2 separate regions of the Homo sapiens genome follow, and region 2 is linked to region 1. Evidence: fine-mapped expression QTL. Tissue or cell type: whole blood. Region 1 holds a variant in brackets; the other region holds the start of a gene. All regions are shown on one strand. Distances are from middle to middle. Region 1 has its middle 35 kb from the start of SLC35G1. Region 2 holds the start of SLC35G1 (solute carrier family 35 member G1).

Region 1 (2,911 bases):
CCAAGTTATTCTTTCAGACTCACCTCTCTTTGAAACCTTTCACCTCAGCCAGGCGCAGTGGCTCATGCCTGTAATCCCAGCCCTTTGGGAGCCCGAGGTGGGCGGATCACGAGGTCAGGAGATCAAGACCATCATGGCCAACATGGTGAAACCCCATCTCTGCTAAAATACAAAAAATTAGCTGGGCATGGTGGCGGGCACCTGTAGTCCCAGCTGCTTCGGAGGCTGAGGCAGGGGAATTGCTTGAGCCCGGGAAGCAGAGGTTGCAGTGAGCCAAGATCGCACCACTGCACTCCAGCCTGGTGATAGAGCAAGACTCCATCTCAAAAAAACAAAAAGCAAAAAACTTTCACCTCCCAGTTACAGTGAGTTTCTTCCCCTTTTCTCCTTCTGGAGTGCCCTGTTCTTACCTCAGTAATTGTTCTAGTGGGTGTTCTAATTATTAGTTTAAGAGTCTGTCTCGGTTGTACCAAGATGGCCGAATAGGAACAGCTCCAGTCTACAGCTCCCAGTGTGAGCGACGCAGAAGACAGGTGATTTCTGCATTTCCTACTGAGGTACTGGGTTCATCTCACTGGGGCTTGTTGGACAGTGGGTGTAGCCCACGGAGCATGAGCCAAAGCAGGGTGGGGCATTGCCTTACCCAGGAAGCACAAGGGGTGGGGGAATTTACTTTCCTAGCCAAGGGAAGCCGTGACAGATGGTACCTGGAAAATTGGGACACTCCCACCCTAATACTGTGTTTTTCCACCAGTCTTAGCGAATGGCACACCAGGAGATTATATCCCATGACTGGCTTGGAGGGTCCCACACACCCACGGAGCCTCGCTCACTGCTAGCACAGCTGTCTGAGATCAAACTGCAAGACGGCAGTGAGGCTGGGGGAGGGGTGTCTGCCATTGCTGAGGCTTGAGTAGGTAAACAAAGTGGCTGGGTGGAGCCCACCACAGCTCAAGGAGGCCTGCCTGCCTCTGTAGACTCCAACTCTGGGGGCAGGGCATAGCTGAACAAAAGGCAGCAGAAACTTCTGCAGACTTAAACGTCCCTGTCTGACAGCTTTGAAGAGAGTAGTGGTTCTCCCAGCACAAAGTTTGAGATCTGAGAACAGACAGACTGCCTCCTCAAGTGGGCCTAAATGGGAGGCACCTCCCAGTAGGGGCCGACTGACACCTCATATGGCTACATGCCCCTCTGAGACCAAGCTTCCAGAGGAAGGATCAGGCAGCAAAATTTGCCATTCTGCAATATTTGCTGTTCTGCAG[T/C]CTCCGCTGGTGATACCCAGGCAAACAGGGTCTGGAGTGGACCTCCAGCAAACTCCAACAGACCTGCAGCTGAGGGTCCTGACTGTTAGAAGGAAAACTAACAAACAAAAAGGACATCCACATCAAAACCCCATCTATACGTCACCATCATCAAAGACCAAAGGTAGATAAAACCAGAAAAATGGGGAGAAACTAGAGCACAAAAGCGGAAAATTCTAAAAATCAGAGAGCCTCTTCTCCTCCAAAGGAAAACAGCTCCTCTCCAGCAACAGAACAAAGCTGGATGGAGAATGACTTTGACGAGTTGAGAGAAGAAGGCTTCAGACCATCGGTAATAACAAATTTCTCCAAGCTAAAGGAGGATGTTCGAACCCATCGCAAACAAGCTAAAAACCTTGAAAAAAGATTAGATGAATGGCTAACTAGAATAAACAGCATAGAGAAGACCTTAAATGACCTGATGGAGCTGAAAACCATGACACGAGAACTACGTGATGCATGCACAAGCTTCAGTAGCTGATTCGATCAAGTGGAAGAAAGCATATTGGTGACTGAAGATCAAATGAATGAAATGAAGCAAGAAGAGAAGTTTAGAGAAAAAAGAGTAAAAAGAAATGAACAAAGCCTCCAAGAAATATGGGACTATGTGAAAAGGCCAAATCTACATCTGATTGGTGTACCTGAAAGTGATGGGGAGAATGGAACCAAGTGGAAAAACACTCCGCAGGATATTATCCAGGAGAACTTCCCCAACCTAGCAAGGCAGCCAATATTCAAATTCAGGAAATACAGAGAACGCCACAAAGATACTCCTCAAGAAGAGCAACTCCAAGACACATAACTGTCAGATTCACCAAGGTTGAAATGAAGGAAAAAATGTTAAGGGCAGCCAGAAAGAAAGGTTGGGTTACCCACAATGGGAAGCCCATCAGACTAATAGTGGATCTCTCAGCAGAAACTCTACAAGCCAGAAGAGAGTGGGGGCCAATATTCAACATTCTTAAAGAAAAGAATTTTCAACTCAGAATTTCACATCCAGCCAAACAAAGCTTCATAAGTGAAGGAGAAATAAAATCCTTTACAGACAAGCAAACGCTGAGAGATTTTGTCACCACCAGGCCTCCCTTACAAGAGCTCCTGAAGGAAGCACTAAACATGGAAAGGAACAACCGGTACCAGCCACTGCAAAAACATGCCAAATTGTAAAGACCATTGAGGCTAGGAAGAAACTGCATCAACTAACGAGCAAAATAACCAGCTAACATCATAATGACAGGATCAAATTCACACATAACAATATTAACCTTAAATGTAAATGGGCTAAATGCTGCAATTAAAAGACACAGGCTGGCAAATTGGAGAAAGAGTCAAGACCCATCAGTGTGCTGTATTTGGGAGACCCATCTCATGTGCAGAGACACAGATAGGTTCAAAATAAAGGGATGGAGGAAGATCTACCAAGCAAATGGAAAACAAAACAAAGGAGGGTTTGCAATTCTAGTCTCTGATAAAACAGACTTGAAACCAACAAAGATCAAAAGAGACAAAGAAGGACATTACATAATGGTAAAGGGATCAATTCAACAAGAAGAGCTAACTATCCTAAATATATATGCACCCAATACAGGAGCACCCAGATTCATAAAGCA
Region 2 (2,911 bases), 35 kb before region 1:
GCCTAGGACAGTCCCAGTTTATGCCTATTCCCTTGTGTAACTTTTAAAAGAGCTCCTCCTTTTACTCTTAAAAAAAAAAAGGTCCAGTTTGGAGGATAAATTATATGCTGACCCTAGTTTAAAACACACTTTGATTTTCTAACATAGTGTTTTCCAGGTGATATTATGCTTTTGCCCACATCATTGCATTTTATTTACATAACTACTCTGCGAAGCAGGAAGGGAAATACTTGATCGCTATTAAATAAAGGAGGTAATCAAGGCTTCGAGGGGTACAGTGGTGACTGAGGTCACACACTCAGGGCCAGAACCTAGGATTCCTGACTTCAAGTCTAAAACTGTTTCAGCTGTGGATCACTATGTGCAAATGTCTGAGTAAAGGCAAACTTCACTCTCCTTTGGTGATCTGCTTGGCACTGGACTTAGAAGTTTAGATACGTTCATCCTTGCACAGAGACTGTTCTTCCACATATAAAGCAAGCAAAGAGATGGAAGAAGAATTATTAGCTAAACAAAAAGAGGCTGTTAGTGAATCCTGGGCCAAAGAATATATTTTACCAGGTCTAATTACATCAGATTACTTGAATCTTACATCTGGCCAAATTAGGATATTTCCATTTAAGAAAAGAAAACCAAAGATCAATAATGCATGCCTACTCTTGCAAAGAATGCAAAGAACATATAAATGGGTTCTGGTCAGTCTTATAGATATATTTTCCTATAATTACACACTAATTCTTTCTTAAAAATATTTCCCAAAACAGCAAAATTCTACCCTCCTTGGTAAGCAGCAAAGGGACAACACGGGAAACAAAACAAAACAAAACAAAACAAAACAAAACATAAAAACCCTAGACCATTTAAAGACAAGCATGGTGCTTTGTAAAATCTTCGGGGTATCACAGAGGTGCTGAATGCGTGGTTACATCAATGAAAAAACGCCCACTCTTTGAGCCTCCTGAAAAGGAGGCCACAGGACCCCCGGGCGCCAGGGCTTGGGAACCCAGCGCCCCTCCTTGTCTGTGCCATGACAGACAGGTTCAGTGTGACTTGCCAAGGATGGCTCCAAGCAGCTGGGCCATGTAGCCTGAACGCAGCAGAGGGTTGGACGCCTTAGAGCCAGCTGTGGGCACCACAGCCCGACCAGGGAGGCAGCGGGTCTCCCCAGGTTAAGAGGCCAGCGGAGGACGCGCGCGGTCTCCTTGGGGGAGGGTGCGGGTGGGCCGGGCGCGCATGCGCATGGGCGCCATCGCCCGCCGGAAGAGCGGCAGCCCAGGCGCTGCTGCTGGCGCCAGACGGCACCGGCCGCTGGTAGAGCGCGTGCCGCGAGATGCGGCCTCAGGACAGCACCGGGGTCGCGGAGCTCCAGGAGCCCGGGCTGCCGCTAACGGACGATGCACCCCCGGGCGCCACTGAGGAGCCGGCGGCCGCCGAGGCAGCTGGGGCGCCAGACCGCGGTAGGTGCTGGCTCTGCCTTTCCTCGCCGTGTTGCTCCCGCACCGAGCCGGGTGAGTGCGCGGTGTGGATCGGGCTCTGGTCTCGCTCGGGGGTCCCGAGCGGGCGCCGGCGGGTTGGGGTCCCCGCAACCCGGGCACAGTGCCCGCCGCGCCTCCGTCCCCACCCTGCCCGGGGCTCGGGAAACCCCTCGAGCTGTCAGCTGGGGGGCTGCAAAGCGGAATTCCCGGCGCCCCAGCCGGCGCTAAGACGGAAGAAACTTTCCGATTGTTAGCAGTCCTTTTGGGATTCCGAGGCTGCTCCTGTAATTAGTGTCGGGGCAGGGCTGTGGAGTCAGACTGCAGTTTGGCGTACCCTCCCCTAGGTCGTAGGTGGGGGGTCAGCGAGAGAGGCCATCCTGCAGTGGGGCGACGTTGCGAGGAAGCTGACCCTGAAAAGTGATCCCGGTGGTTAAGGGTTCTCTCCGAAAAGGAAGCTGAAAAGCATCGAGTCTAGAAAAAATGTTCGTCCTAGAGTTTTAGAATCTTGGAAAGGCAGAGATAAGTGGGACCGCTAGTTTTTAACCTTTAGGGATACAAGGACTTTTTAGCAAACGATGCAGAACAAGGCATATCTTGTTAAGAAGCTCACAGCCCCGTCCCCAAAGTCAGGGACCCCTCGTGAAGAACACTTTATGTTCAGTCCCCCTCCTTCGACACATGAGCAAAGTGAGGCCCAGGAAGGTGAGGGCTTTTGGGTTTTCGTTTGCTTTGTCTCCTCCAAGATGTGGAACGTGGGGGTGAGATGGGGCGCATGTCCAGGGAGCACCAGGGTTAGGATCCCAGCTTGCCATATACCGGCCTAGGGCCCTTTCCACTGGCCACAAGTGCTGCTTCAAGCACATTCCTCTTAGAAGTCGACCATCTACCAGGAGCAGCTTCCTGCAAGAAGAAGGGAATAGGCAGATCTCTTTTTAGGACAGTTACACGGCCTGCACCACCTTGTCCTCTGGGTCACCTCCCCTAAGTGTGACCCTGGATTTCTGTTCCTCTCCTCTCACTGCGCTTTCCCCTCCTCCCTTTGTGCACTTTCCCCAAGTTAGAGAGACAGACTCTAGGAAGACTATTCTTGCTCCATTTCTGTCCTAAAGGCAAACCGAAATGATCAGACTTGTGATCATTTATAAATGGGCTGGTGCCTCTAGAACAGGGGTTATGCCAGGCTGAATTGAACAGATAAGCAGCCTTTGAAAAGGTCAGTTTCTCACCTATCACCCTCTGGGTGAATGTCCTTCTGGTGGCATGCCGAATCAGTCCATGCAAACTCTTAAAGTTTCCCCTTTTTGTGAATGGAAGAGGAATTCTCTACTCCCAGGCAGCTCATGGCAAGATGAGAAACTTACGTGAGTGTATCTAAGAATCTTGTGGGTGTTTAACTTCAAAGAAAGTTTCTACCAGTAAGACTTAGTTATTGTAAG

What was found. PIP is the estimated chance that this variant, and not a neighbour inherited with it, causes the effect.
Region 2: SLC35G1 starts here. The variant in region 1 is the best candidate, but not a certain one, in a credible set for the expression of SLC35G1 in whole blood (TOPMed, PIP 0.54).

What each region holds. Positions count from the first base shown.
Region 1 is chr10:93,927,235-93,930,145 of GRCh38, forward strand. No RefSeq gene overlaps it. Among named protein-coding and RNA genes, the nearest start is that of SLC35G1, 35 kb to the left of the region's middle. RefSeq lists an enhancer at 1-899. The variant T/C (reference allele first, on the strand shown) is at 1,263.
Region 2 is chr10:93,892,704-93,895,614 of GRCh38, forward strand. It overlaps SLC35G1 (solute carrier family 35 member G1), which reads left to right and starts at 1,275. Exons shown (of 3, transcript NM_001134658.3): 1 at 1,275-1,508. The coding sequence starts at 1,331. RefSeq lists a silencer at 1,249-1,678.